Linked DNA regions of Homo sapiens. The protein of the gene in region 1 purifies or fractionates together with the protein of each later gene. This does not show direct contact. Each region holds a gene or a part of one and is shown on either strand. Other genes may lie near its edges.

Region 1 (8,045 bases):
ACTTTTTCCTTTTAGGGCAAATCCAGACAGAACCTTTGACTTGGTGTTGAAAGTGAAATGTCATGCCTCTGAAAATGAAGGTATGTGTCTTCTGTGTTCTGTTATTTGACAAGGTCTCTTTTTTTTGGGACAAGATCTCATTCTGTTCCTCAGGCTGTGCAGTGGCATGATCAGGGCTCACCACAACCTCTCCTTCCCGGGTTCAGGTGATCCTCCCACCTCAGCCTCCCGAGTAGCTGGAGCTACCAATGCACACCACCATGCTCAGCTAATTTTTGTATATTTTTTTGTGGAGACAGGGTTCACCACGTTGCCCAGGCTGGTCTTGAACTCCTGGGCTCAAGTGATCCACCCACCTTGCCCTCCCAAATTGTTGGGATTACAGGCGTGAGCCACTGTGCCTGGCCTGTTCTGTTAATTCTTAAAATAATTGATTGAATCTGTCAAAGCAAGTGTTAATATTGTGGACTGCTGGAACATGGTAGTAATAGGAAAATAATACTACTAAATGTGTATTCTGCATTGAGTGTCTCAAGTTGCTGGTAATAAAATAGGTGTTAAGTCTTTGCCCTGGGATTGTAAAAATCATGAATGTTATCAGTGCAGCTTGAATTTCAGGTGTGTTGTTAAGCCCATATAACTTACAACTCAGCTTCACCATTCGTTGGTAAAGTTATCATTAGTTTTGGTGAAAGGGCGAATCTTTTCATTTTCTTTCATTTATGTTTGGAAATTTAGTGTCTTTTTTTAAACATTAGTGCACATTCTCCTGCTAGTACCAATGGAAACTACACCACTTCCCTTCTGATGTTTCCAGAACGCAGAATGCAGACTGAGTAGCCCCTTCTGTTGGATTTACTCCAATAGCACAGCACTTTTGCAGGGAGGTAAACGATAGTGTGAAATTACTTGGAAGGGTTTCAGCTGTCAGTTCCGTACAATTTCCTGAAAAGATGAGAGCATAATACTTTAATGTCATGATTTTCATCATTTCCCTCCACTTTTGTCATATTGTGTATTGTGCATATGTGTGGTAGGCGGCAGGGTTAGCAGACAAGAATAAGGAATTCTTTTCTTGCCTATTTTCTTTTAATGTGTTCTTGCATGGTATGTCTTTCTAGATACTTAAAGTATATGTCTTTACTTGCTGTGTGCTTAGACCCTGGATAGCATGATGATTAAGCATAGGGGTTTCGTGGAGACTGATTGGCCATCCTAAAGCCTTGGAGGAAAGTCTGCTGACAATTTTAGCTTCAGAAACTATCCAGCAATTACCTACTCTTAAGTAATTTGGAGCTGCACACCTTAAAATAGAGAAGCCCAACCCAGTTGTGGTGAAATGGGCATGGCTAATTTTAGTATGAAGTCACATATTGTTGGCTCCACCAGCCCTACTACTGTACTCCTGGTCTATCTGAACTGCAGCTGTGGTCAGGTTTGTCTATTGGCAAGGAGTGATCCTAGGTTGTAGGGAGCCTTTTCTAGTTGATGAAGTTATCTTTTATTGTCCTGTATGTAGTAAAGTTTGTCCATTTGCATTATTTTGAGCCCCAACCGGGTCCTCTTTGAAGAATGGATATATTAGGTAGAATGGATACTCAAATGGATACATTATGTTTTCAGCTCCAATTTAATTCTATTCTATAGTGGTTTATGATATAAGTTAATCTAAAAAATATCTACCACAACATTACCGAAGGTGCGTGAAGTAACGCTCATCTGATATTGCTTGTAAAGGCGTGGCACGGTGGCTCACGCCTATAATCCCAGCACTTTTGGAGGCCGAGGTGGACAGATCATCTGAGGCCAGGAGTTCGAGACCAGCCTGACCAATATGGTGAAACCCCATCTCTACTAAAAATACCAAAATTATGCAGGCATGGTGGCCTATGCCTGTGATCCCAGCTACTGGGGAGGCTGAGGCACGAGAATCAGTTGAACTGGGGTTGTGGAGGTTGCAGTGCGCCGAGATAGCACCACCACACTCCAGCCTTGGTGACCAAGTGAGACTCTGTCTCAAAAAAAAAAAAAAATCTATATAGATATATAGATATATTTATAGATACATATATTTATAGATATATATTTATAGATATATATTTATATATATTTATAGATATATATTTACATATATATTTATATATATATTTATAGATATATATTTATATATTTATAGATATATATTTATATATATTTATAGATATATATATTTATATATATTTATAGATATATATTTATATATTTATAGATATATATTTATAGATATGTATATTTATAGATATATATTTATAGATATATATTTATAGATATATATTTTTATATATATTTATAGATATATATACACACACACACACACAACAGGCTAATTTCACTTGGAAAATATGGATTCTCTAATTTTAAATGTGTATTAAAGTGATCTTGTTAAAAGATCAATTTGCCTTATATAACACCCAATCTATGCATGTGTCAGAGAGATTGTGGTCTTCTTATAAAGGCTTTTGAGTGGTTTACTCCCTTCTTCCTCTTTTTGCTCTTTTCCACTTTTCATGAGCTAGTTATTCCAGTTTGTATCTTCTACTTCTGCCCTGCTTTAATATTACACCTTGTCTTTTTGCTGTTGTTATTTAAATCACTACTTTTTAGAAACATCTTCATTTGTATTTTAACAGTTTATATCTAGCCTGGTAAAGTTGTAAATATGATAAATGGTTAAAGTAAATAATGTTGGCTTCTTTGTAGGTTGCAAATAATCCATTCTATATGGCTAAATGGCAGAAAATTCTAAAGATATTTTAAAAAACTAAACTCAGCCATGTAAGCAGCAGTAACCTTTCTTCTTTTATTATGACTTAAATAGTATGAATATGGCTAATATTTTAGGATCTAACAAGTAATAACTATAATCAGTAACTATAATAAATAACAAATGATAAATTAGTAGCTATAAATAATAAAATCAATAACTATAAGAGGGCTATAAAAGTAAATTTTTTTGCCAAATTGAGAGATTTATGTTTCTGTAATATTTTATCAATGTTCTACTTTACAGCTAAATCTTAAATAGAAAAATATATGAAAAATATTTTAAAAGTTATTGGAATCCTCATATTTAACTGTTAGTACCTATTTGTTTTAATGAGGCTCTGATATGTGCATTATCAGCTTGTTTAAGGTACGATAATTTTTTTTTTGCTAACATTAAATGATCATGGGTGAAATTCTTAAATAGTAATAGATTGGAAAACAAAATGTATAAATTAGGATGCTTTGGAGTACAAACATAAGATTGGTTTAAATAATAGAGAAACTAGAGAAACTTGATATAGTTCATACAAGAAGTCGTCAAACATCGATATAGTTCATACAAGAAGTCGTCAAACATCCAGGTGCTTTCTGCTTCTCATTTCTGCCACTCACAGTAATGGTGTCATTGGAGGGCTTAGATTTCTTGCGGTTATAAGACTGTCAGTGGAAGTTGGAACTCTGCTTTTTTGTTTGTGACTCTGGGGGTGACAGACACTGGCTTTACATGTCTCTATTTAGAGCCAGAAAGTTTCTTTTTTCAAATCCCCTAGAAAGCCTTTCCTTAGATCCTGGTAGCCTAAGTTGGCATGCACCTGACCACTCCTGAAATTATCATTGGTGGGGTAGAGGTAAAGGGGTTGGTGGCAAGACTATTGTGATTGATTTATTTAAATTGGCAATGAATAGATGTTGAGAAATCAATTAAAATGCTTTTGTTAAAGAACTTTTAGAATATATAATTTTTTGTTGACTGATCAAATAGAAAATGTATTTAGAGTAAATTTGGTTTATACTAAGATTGGTGACATTATGTTAAGGTATTTGGCATGCTTCTCTTGTTCATTTTTCATAGGTAAGTCTAAATGTTTTCATTTATCCTGAATAGCTTAGATAAGTATCTTCAGAGACAGGTTGTTAATTAAATTTTAGTTAACAGTGTGAAATGACATTAGCTTTTAAAATATAACTTGATAAAGCTCCTCTGGTAAGATTGTGATCTTTATCTGGTCTACTGCTATTTGGACTTGTTTCAGAGGCATTATATTGATTTTTTTTTTTTTGAGAACAACACATTTCAGAACATTCTGGAAAATAGCTTGTTAGTTTCATATGGAGTGCTCTACAAATCTAAAAAAATGCCATAAGAGGGGTTGGTAGTATTTCCCTATAGTGTCCCCTATGTGTTAGTAGAATTTGTTCTGGTGGTGTCTGACAGATTAGTTGTGGCATTTTTTTTTTTAATGGAGGTTTCCCTGGCAGAACAACCTCCCAGTAACTTCTGCTCCAGCTGTCCAAAAGTGAAGTGCCAAAATTTAGATCTTAATGCTCTTCCTGGTAGATCTCCAAGATAATTGCTAGTGTTCTTATTCTTTTTGTTGTCTGTCTTCCTTTTAGCAGGCAGGGAAGTACAGCCAGCAGTGATGGCCTCTCCTCAATTCTGTTAACAGAAGTCATTGTTACCATACTGTCCCCACCTTCCCCAAAGTGACTTAAGACTTCAGGGAAATGAAAAGTAACTTTTCGTCAATAAAAGATTGGGTATGCCTCTAAGCATTTCTCTTCTGGGAAGTGGCCTTGGTACTCTAGCTTTCTCTTTTTTAATTTTGTTGATAGTTTATTCCAAGTAGTAATAGTAGCAGTAGTAGTAGGAGGAGGAGGAGGAGGAGGAAAGGGAGGAGGAGGAGGAAGAGAAGGAGGAGGAGGAGCAGGAGGAAGAGGAGGAGGAGAAGGAGGAGGACGAGGAGGAGGACGACGAAGAGGAGGAGGAGGAAAAGGAGGTGGAGGAGCAGCAGCAGCAGCTGCAGCAGCTAATATGTTGTACTTATTCTGTGCTGGGCAAAATTCTGGATATTTTTCATGTACTATTTAAGCCTCACAAAAATCTTATGATATAGGAAATGCTTGTTTCCATTTGGCACATGAAGAAACTGAAGAACAGAGAAATGATGAAACTTGCGCAGGGTAGTCTGTCCAGAGTCTGTATTTTAACTACTGCTGTGTTGCCTCCCATTGCATAGTGACTTCACGTGTATAGGTGGTTTTATCATGCGAGGAAATATTTGAGTATAAACTGTATGTGGTACAAATCATTTTTTCCAAATGGGAATACAGTGTGTTCCCTAAAATTAATGAATCCAATATAATTCCACCTAAAACAATTACTGAGTTTTTTCTTTGTGGTTGCAGAGCCTAACTCATCCCATTTCCCTCCCTGTCACTTTTCATTTTTAGGATTTGCATCTTCATATTTAGTGAATCTTTGATCTAATAGTTCTGGCTATTTAATAGTAGTTTTAAAACATCTTTAGCACGTCTTGTTTTCTTTATTCCTTTCTTTTTACCTAGAACAGTTTCTCTTAGGAACAAATTCTTCTTTGCTACCAGCTTTCTACTTTGATCTGCCTATCCAACCCAGTCTCAAATTATCAATTTTTCTTATCTGCAACTTATGTTAACAGTTTAACTGCCTTTCACTTTTTTGTTAAATTAGAGCCTTAAGCCAAAGAATTCTTAGTGTCCTCCATGCCCTGCACAAGAAAGGTATCTCTAAACTTACTTTTTGCATTTGATAACTTTTTGTCTATAGTGATACTATCTACACTAGACTCTACAACATTTTGCTTCTGCTTGGTATTTTAGCACTTATTGTACTATTATAGATATGTTTAATATGGTCATTTAGAGAAATACTGATGTGTCTAAATGTATGTTTGCCCTGCTTGAGGTAAGTTCTTCATGAACCAGAACTTATTAATTTGTATTCTTAAGAAAAAACTTAACACATCTGACATGTTTAATGAATATTTACAGAATGAATAAAAGAAACTGGGGCTGGGTGCAGTGGCTCACACCTGTAATTCCAGCACTTTGGGAGGCAGAGGCAGGTAGATCATTTGAGGTCAGGAGTTTGAGACCAGCCTGGCCAACATAGTGAATCCCTGTCTCTACTAAAAATACAAAATTTAGCGGGGTGTGGTGTCAAGAGCCTGTAGTCCCAACTACTTGAGAGGCTGAGGCAGGAGAATCACTTGAACCCAGGAGGCGGAGAGAGATTGCAGTGAGCTGAGATTGTGTCACTGCATTCCAGTCTAGGTGACAGAGGGAGACTCTATCTCTAAAAAATAAAAAATAAAAATAAATTGGATCTAGCTTAATGCTTGGCCATTGAATAAATGAATGTTGATTACATTAATCCACAGAGAGCTGCTTGTAGAAATGATTTTAAATGTGTGCTGGTATGACAGTACAGGGGCATTAGAAATAGAAGTCCATATATGTCTTGGAATGGGCTGTTTTGGAATACCCCATCCTCAAACTCTTTTCATTCAGTGCTTATGTCTCCTTTCCTCTCTTCATAGCAAAATATTTATAAGAACAGTTGCTATATATGTTTGTGAATTTACCTTAAAACTCATCTATAACCATTCATACATACTAAAACCCAACAAAACTCTAACATTTGGAAAATAGAACCTTGAGGAATCATACAGATAATAAAGTAGTTTAGGAGGTATTGCATTATTGTCCAACATGGAAAAAGTCTGAGTAAAATGTGGTTACCATGATAGTTGTTTTTGCTGTAACTTTGTGTTCATTTAAGAACTCTGAGTCTCTCAATTCAGATGCACTAGGATAAATTAGAGTAATGCAAACTGTATAAGCTAAATTGTTGAAGAAAATGAAACTGTGACCAGGCATGGTGGCTGATACCTGTAATCCCAACATTTTGGGAGGAAGAGGTGGGAGAATCCCTTGAGGTCAGAAGATCAAGACCAGGCTGGGCAACATAGCGAGGCTCCCATCTCTATTAAAAAATAAAATAAAATGAAACTGTTTTTTCTTTTGCACTGCTAGCCAGGAACAAAATGTAATGTGATTCTTCAGAACCATGTCCTTGGGTTATGCCCTTCTTGATTTATATAGAAAATAGTTGAGAATATATGTACTTTTATATGTGGCTTGGTGCATTACATCCTCCTTCACATAGCTGCCTGCAAGTGTAAAAAGCAAATCAAATTTCACTGTTCAGTATTTGTTGATTATTACTTTCATAGGTGTGTTGCAAATTTTACATTTTAATAGTTTGGTTATCACTTTCTCATTAGGTGCTTTCATTTGTTTACATGTTCTTTATTTTTGCCGCTTTAATCTAAGGTGACCTCTTGGTTTTTGATGTTCATGATTTCCACTGTAAAATGTCAGAGGCTGCTTGGCCTCTGCTGCAGATTTCACAGTGGTATGCTTTAAGACTGTTGTTTTGTCACTGCTGTGTTGCCACAGTGCAAGTTTGTTCAGGTTTTTTCTTATAACTTTGTTTTCTTGACTTTCAAGGTGATATGTTCCTGATGTGCTTTTGATAATATTCTCTCATTTTCAGATTTTTCTTAGGCTCAGATAATATATTCTTTTTCTCTAAATTTTCATGTTTTATTTGCAAGTTAGGGGATAATAATTTACTGTGTACAGTATACATTTTAAAGTGTTCATATAATACTAGCAATAGACATGTTTAGAGTGCTTTACGCAGATGGCCATGGTACTTCAGATAACAATGAGAATATCACATTTGAGCTCTTGGATTTTTAATCATTTCCAAAATAATACTTCTTCCTTGGAAATAAGCTTAATGTTTAACATTGAAAAACTTTTCCCACTTTCAAACTCTTGATTTATCTCAAGTAGTAATTTAATTTTATCTATAGAAAGTAATGTCTTGGTTCACGTTTCTGTGATAGGTCAGTCACTGGCCTTGTGGGGGAACTTGCTAAAAGGTGATCCTGACTTGACCTTTTAAAAGTATTTATTTAGGAGACTGTGGTACTAATTCTTATGACACTGAATAAGAGAAGAGTAGAATAACAGAACTTGAGTTTCCTTAAAGAGCACTTAGTATAATCCCATGGAGTATGGAGGGAATTGCTTTGATGCCTTTTACAATTCCTGGATCCCCTCTGCTGTCACCTTGTAGGTGCCATTATCATCATGCTGCCTGGTGACTGGTAAAAATTCTCACAATGAGC
Region 2 (7,038 bases), on another chromosome or scaffold:
GATGGGGCACTCTTAAGCTGGGTTTTGAAGGATAAGTAGGTGTTCTCTAGGAGAAAACTGAGAGCAAGAGAAGTATATCAAGGATTTTGCATCCTGGAGAAAGTGAGTGAACAATCTAATGCCTCCAGAAATTGTATATGTGACTTTGGGCTTCTGGTTCTTTAATTGCAAAATGGGAATAACCTATTTCTAAAGCAGTTGTTTCCATCCTGGGAGTGCATTACAATCATCCAGGAGCTTTAGAAATACCTATTTTCAGAACATTCCTCTAGAGATTTTGAGTTAGTTGATGCAGGATAAATCCTGGGTGAGGGTGCCTTTAAGAACTTCTCTCCAGGGGATTTAATGAGTACTCAAGGTTGAGAATCCCACTCCAAAGCAAGTGATTCCCACCTGATGATTCCCAGGTCTTTTAAAGCATTCAGCCACCAGGTATCAAGATGGCTGTAAAGCCACAGTATTAAGGTATTGGAACAGAGACAGACAAGCTGACCAATGGAACAGACTAGAGAATCCAACAGAGCCACACAGGAAGTCACCTGATATGTGACAAGGGCATCGCTACAGTTCAAAGGAAAGGATGATCCTTTCAATGAATGATGAAAACAACAACAACAACAACAAAACACCAGTGGATGTCCATACAGGAAAAATATAAATAGTGACTATTTTACTCAACATACAAAAATTAATTTGAGAAGTCACAGACCTAAATGTGAAAGGTATTAGATTGGACTATATGAAACTATTGGTCTTTAATATTTTTTAACCTCAAAACCCACAAGAATCAAAATGATAAAGCTTCTAGAAGAAAATATATTAATAGTAGACAATCTTTGTGACCATGAGATAGGCAGAAAGTATTAACCATTTTTACAAAATGATAAATGGAACTTCATTAACATTAAGAGCCTTGTTCCTCTAAAATTACCTAGGACAGTACAAAGGCAAGTCACAAGCTGGGAGTGGTACGTGTAATGTCTGTGTCTGATAAAAGGCTCATGCCTGTTTTTAAGCACTTCTACAAATCGACTGAAAAAAGACAACAACTTAAAAACTAAGCAAAGACATGAACAAATACTTCACAAAAGAAGATATCCAAATGGCCAATAAGCAGCTGAAAAGGTGCTCGACATCATTAATCATCAGAAACATGCAAAACAAAACTACAAGAAGAACTCACTACACACCCACTAGAATAGCTCAGATTAAAAGGACCAGCCACACGAGGACGTGGAGCAAGTGGAACTCTCTTATATTGCGGGTGGGTGTGCAAACCGACACCAACGTGTTGATTGGAAAATTGCTTGGCAGGATCTATAAAAGGTAAACATATGCTTACCCTTTGACCCATTCATTGTACCTCAGGGTATATGCCCAACAGGAAATGAGTGCTTGTGGGTTTACCAAGACATGTACTGCAATGTCCATAGCAGCTTTATGTGATAGACCTAAAGTGGAAACAACCCAGATGTCCATTTATAGTAGAGAAGGGAGAGAGAGAAAGAGATTCCTGGCCACCATCCCAGATCATACTTTGCATTTCCCTGGGTGTCCCCACTCTTCTTTGGTTTCCACAGGATCCCCAGTTGATGCTTGTGACAGACAGCTATGGGAGCCAGTGACCAAGAGTGTGAAACACTGCAAAGCCCAAATCCCACTAGAACAAATTATACTGTACCTCCAAGCAATAAGGCAAAGACTGAGTAAATGCAATGTATTTTCAGTCATTGAATTCAACTCCAATTGGGGAGCTTAATCAATAAATGATTTAAAATTAATAATAATTGATTTTGAAAGAAAATATTTTTAAGCAATCTCCGGTAAGATCCTAGGTTACCCTAAAAAGCTTCTAGTACAAAATGTTGAAAATCTTTCCACACAAAAATCTAAACAAGTAAGAAATAAAAGGAGAGAAATAGAAAATTTAGAAAATTTTTTTTTAATGGGAAGCATTCTGTAAATAGTAAAAAATTCAAGATGGCATTTCAGAACATTCGAGAAAAGGTGAACAATTCCATAAATGCTATTAGGAAACAAACAAATCATTTCAAAAATAAAATTACAAGTGTTGGAATAAAACCTTTTCATAATGTTAGAGTGAAAAAGAACTTCCTAAGTGTGATACACAAGCCAGAAACCATGTAGGAAAAGATGGCATATATGGATATACCATCTTTTTGCAACGTGTTAAAACTCTACAGAATATGTAAAATTTGGAATCACAAATTGGAACATGTGTACAAGATAGAGAGCTAATGTTCTTAACAATTAAGAGTTCTTATATATATCAATAAGTAACCACATGTGTTTCTCAATCAGCAAAAAGTAAAAAATTTGGGTAAATATGCATTGAAACATTGTGGGTGGGGGCCAGCTTTGATTTTCCTCATCTTATTTTCTTCTTTGTCTTTGTCTCTGCAGAACAGGGTACTTCCATGCACATATTAGTAGATACGGTTATTCATAGACATTATGTATTTTTCATACCAACTTTGCAAGTTTGGGTGCTGCTAGACCCATTTTTACACATGAGAAATCTGAGTTTCCTATAGCTGCACAGTTAGCAGATTCAGGACTCAAAAATCAGGTCTTCTGGTTCTGAATCCCTTTTTCCATGGATAGCTTTCTGGTAGACCATAAATGAAAGCATGGCCACAGCATCTTGGCAGCCAGCACAGACCCATGGAACTCTTGGCCAGACTGGTGATCCAGCCCTAGGGCTAGGCATGAGAAGGACGCAGAATGTCTGTCTATTTGAGTGATCACCTTGGCCCTTGGTTGTCTTCTCTAAGACAGAGAAACAGACAACACACACACACACACACACACACACACACACACACACACACACACTGCCCCTTGGACTAACCTCACCTCCCCAGTTTCTCCTTTCCCCTCAGGTCAGTCTTCCTTGGCCTTCCCCAGTTGTTGCTGATCCCAGCCTCCTAGTCCTTTTTCGGTCCTGGTCCTGCAGCCTTCAGGTTCCAGGTATGTTCCTCTAGGCTCCCAGCCCCACAAGCCTTATCTACAAACTGGGTGGACTTCTGCCCAACGACCTACTAAGCCTGCCTCTGCCACCTCCACCCCTTTCCCAGGATCAGCCTGGCCAACTGGCCCTGCCAAGTGTCTCACTCAGAGAGCAATGCGTCTGGGAGTTCCCTTCCTCACCCCTTGGGAAAGATCAGGCCTACTTTTTCTCTCCCATCCCAAATAGCAAGGGGCACTGTGCTAGGTACACCCAAGGTGCTCTGTAGATTCACTGATGAGGGCCTGGCTTGCTAGGACCTGAGTGTTTGGCACCCAGTAAACCTCATAAAAGTGAGTGCACCAGAAACCAGAGTGACACACGCCATCCCCTCCCAGCTCCACAGCCCTGATCCCTGTGATCATCTTTGAGCAGAATCGTCCACCCCAGATTCCTTCCCTGGGACAGGACAGGAATGGGTGTGGGCACCCTGGCACTGCTATAGAATACCAGCCGCCTGGCACAGATGTTCACATGGCCCTCTCTCACCTCCCAGGTGCAGCCTGGGAGCAGGCAGCCCATCCATCCAACCCCACCCCACTCCCGAGCTCTGGGACGTCTCAGGGCCTGGGCCTGTGGTCTGGGTACCAGACATAGGTGACTCATAATGCACCTGGTGGCTGGAGAAGCCATCCCTTCCTCTGGTTCTCAGTGTACTCACCTGTACAATGGGCAATAGGAGACTGCATTGGATCTGTGGTTGCCTGAGAGAGCCAAACTATTGGAAGTCATGCTGTCAATCAATTTCACTTAAAATAATATAGACCCAAGTCCGTGCTAAATGTCATTCAAGCCAGATCTAGATGCTGGTAGAAGAGCAGAACAACAGAGGATATAAAAAAAGAGCATTTGCTCAACATTACTAACCATCAGGGAAATGTAAATGAAAACCACAATGAGATACCACCTTACTCTTACAAGATGGCCATAATTAAAAAGTAAAAAATAAAAATAAAAAAAATAGATGTTGGCATGAATGTGGTGAAAGGGAACACTTTTACACTGCTGGTGGGAATGTAAATTACTACAACCCCTATGGAAAACAGTATGGAGATTCCTTAAGGAACTAAAAGGAGAGCTACCATTTCATCCAGCAATCCCACTACTGGGTATCTACCCAGAGGAAAAGAAATCATTATATGAAAAAGACACATGCACACACATGTTGCGTAATTTCAAAGATATGGAACCAACCTAAGTGCCCATCAAACAATAAATCCATAAAGAAAATGTGGTATATACACACCATGGAATACCACTCAGCCATAAAAAGGAATGAAATAATGTCCTTTACAGCAATTTGGATGGAGGTGGAGGCCATTATTCTAACTAAAGTAACTCGGGAATGGAAAACCAAATATTGCATGTTCTTGCCCATAAGTGGGAGCTAAGCTGTGAGCACAGGTATAAGAATGATATAATGGACTTTGGGGACTCAGGGAAGAAGGTTGGGAGGGGGTGGTGAGGTATAAAAAACTACATATTGGGTACAGTGTACACTGTTCAGGTGATGGGTGCACTAAAACTCAGAAATCACCGCTAAATAACTTAATCCAAGTAACCAAAAACCACCTGTACCCCAAAAACTCTTGAAATTTAAAAAGAGCATTTCAGAAAAATATTTATGGAAGGAAAATCGCAAACTGCAAAAAAGCCCATAATTTAATGTTTTTCTGCATTTTCAGGTAGCCCACCAATTTGATTTCAGCAGCATGTGTACTTCTGTGCACACCTCATGTACACACACACACACACACATATATATATACACACACACATTTAATTCTTACAAGTCTGTGAGGGACCATTGTCACACTATACAGATGAGAAAGCTGAGGTTTGGGATAGTGAGTCATCTGTCAAATGTCACACGGTTATTTAATGGATGTGCAGCTTCATAAGAATTTCTTAATATAAAAGCAGAAAAAAAATATGTGGATACAACTAGTGCAGAAACTTTGGGAGAAATCAAGGAAATTCTGGAACTGTCTGCATGCCTCACATAAGGCTGCGGCTGTTAAATGCTGGCTCCTGGGATGGCTCACTCTAGTATTTGTCGGGTTGGTTCGTGCAGCCCAGAACAGGAACCGACACCACCTTCAGTTTTCCATCTCTGAGCCATTCGACTTCTCCTTTGGAAGGTGTCCCACCCACCTCTCTCACCTGCCTTTCCCTCATCCTCCTTTCCTGCTTCCTTCCAAAGAGGCAGAACTTGAGTTGAAAAGCAGATTGAATGTCTATAATGTACCAGGCAGCAAGCCAGGTGTGGGGGAGAGAGAAATAACACAAGTCCTCATAAGCTCACAGACCAGGGAAGGGACAGACACTGGGGGGTCACGCCTGTACTCCTAGCACTTTGGGAGGCCAAGGCAGGTGGATTGCTTGAGGTCAGGAGTTTGAGACCAGCCTGGCCAATATGGTAAAACCCCATCTCTATTAAAAATACAAAAATTAGCTGGGAGTGGTGTCTCGCACCAGTGGTCCCAGCTACTCGGGAGGCTGAGGCATGAGAATTGCTTGAGCCCAGGAGGCAGAGGTTGCAGTGAGCTGAGATTGCACCACTGCACTTCAGCCTGGGTGACAGTGATACTCCATCTCAAAAACAAAACAAAACAAAACAAGAGTTCTGTGGAGGGGTGAGTTCAACACCACTTGCACCCACGAGAGGCAGATATTGAATCAAATCAAGGCCTCCAAACAAAAAAAGCCGCAGCTCCATCCCCCACCCACTCACGTGTCCCCTCTCAGGGGGCATTGTGACATTGAGGCGGAGCACAGGTCCTACAGCCACAGCAAGCTGGGCCACCTCACCCAGGTCACCTCACTTCTCTGTGCCTCAGTATTTCCATCTGCCCAATGGGACTACTGAAGTACCTGCTTTGTTCATTTCATCAGATTGTTAGCAGTGCTATCAAATGCAAAGGCCCATGTGGAGAGGATCAATTAAAACTAATTAGTAGTAATCATAGCAATAGTTATAATAGTTGTTAATAAAATAGTAATTAATTACTATTAATGGGCATTACTAATGATAAACATGATGACAGGGAGCTGATTCTGTTCATCCAAGTCACACTCTGCTCACCATTCTCATCCTCCAGCATCAAGAGTGAGGGTGTTGTGTGCCTAACACTGCTGGAGCCCAGGAGGACAATTCTTGCCTCTCAAATGAAACATGTGTTATCAAGAATGGATCAGACAGCAAAAATCAAATGTTAAGGATGGCTGAGATCCTTGAAATTCAGGAGGAATTTGGATGGGTAGTCAGTAGTTACCCAAATAGGGTTATCTGTTCACATCTAACTACTGACTATTTTGTGTGCTATTATATAGTTAAGGATGGGAAAAGCTCATTTCTGAGCTTTCAGAAATTTGGGAAAACAGAGTGGTTGTCTACTTAAGACCAAGGAAAGGGCCAAGTCACAGAGAAGACGTAGTGAAGAAATACGCAAGCCCACACATCTATTCTCCAAGAATGTTCCACACATTCCCCAGTGGGTTCTATTACCAGCTCAAGCCACTAGCATAAGAATGAGGAGTGATACCGAGGGTAGCTCTGGAAGCAGCCATCCCACGGCTCACCATGCAGGTGGAAGAAGGGAAGTTTCCCTTCAGTCATCCAGGTTTTCAGTTTTCCTTCCAGGATAAGCGAAAGCAGGCTGATAGAAACCAAGTGTGGGCTGGTAAGCAGGTCACCCTTATCTGCAAGGGCATACTCTGAGTTGCCACGGCTTGTTTGCTGATACCAGACAGTCCTCTTACAGAGAACTGCCTTTATAATCCAAGACAAAATGAAGGACAATTACTTTCAGAGAGAGAATACAAAGATGCAAATGGCTGATATCAGATATCTCTAAGCAGTACAAACCAAGAAACAGTAGAGACTCAAGAATCTGAAGCAGAGCGGGAGGACCTGAGAGCGGGAAAAGACTATAGAGAATTCTATGTAGAGACAGAAAATCTGGATTCAGGCTCCATGGCTGCTGTTTCCCAGCCGTGCAACCCTCCTC

What was found.
Region 2: the proteins of DENND1B (region 1) and SERPINA12 purify together in Homo sapiens (affinity purification with mass spectrometry; 3 studies listed by BioGRID and IntAct, with this or other methods). This does not show direct contact.

The regions. Positions count from the first base shown.
Region 1 is NC_000001.11:197,764,903-197,772,947, reverse strand, and holds part of DENND1B (DENN domain-containing protein 1B), read left to right. Parts: intron 1-15; coding exon 16-80; intron 81-8,045. UniProt on the Homo sapiens protein: Guanine nucleotide exchange factor (GEF) for RAB35 that acts as a regulator of T-cell receptor (TCR) internalization in TH2 cells. Acts by promoting the exchange of GDP to GTP, converting inactive GDP-bound RAB35 into its active GTP-bound form.
Region 2 is NC_000014.9:94,506,470-94,513,507, forward strand, and holds the start of SERPINA12 (serpin A12 precursor), read right to left. Parts: upstream 3,001-7,038; 5' UTR 2,873-3,000; intron 1-2,872. UniProt on the Homo sapiens protein: Adipokine that modulates insulin action by specifically inhibiting its target protease KLK7 in white adipose tissues.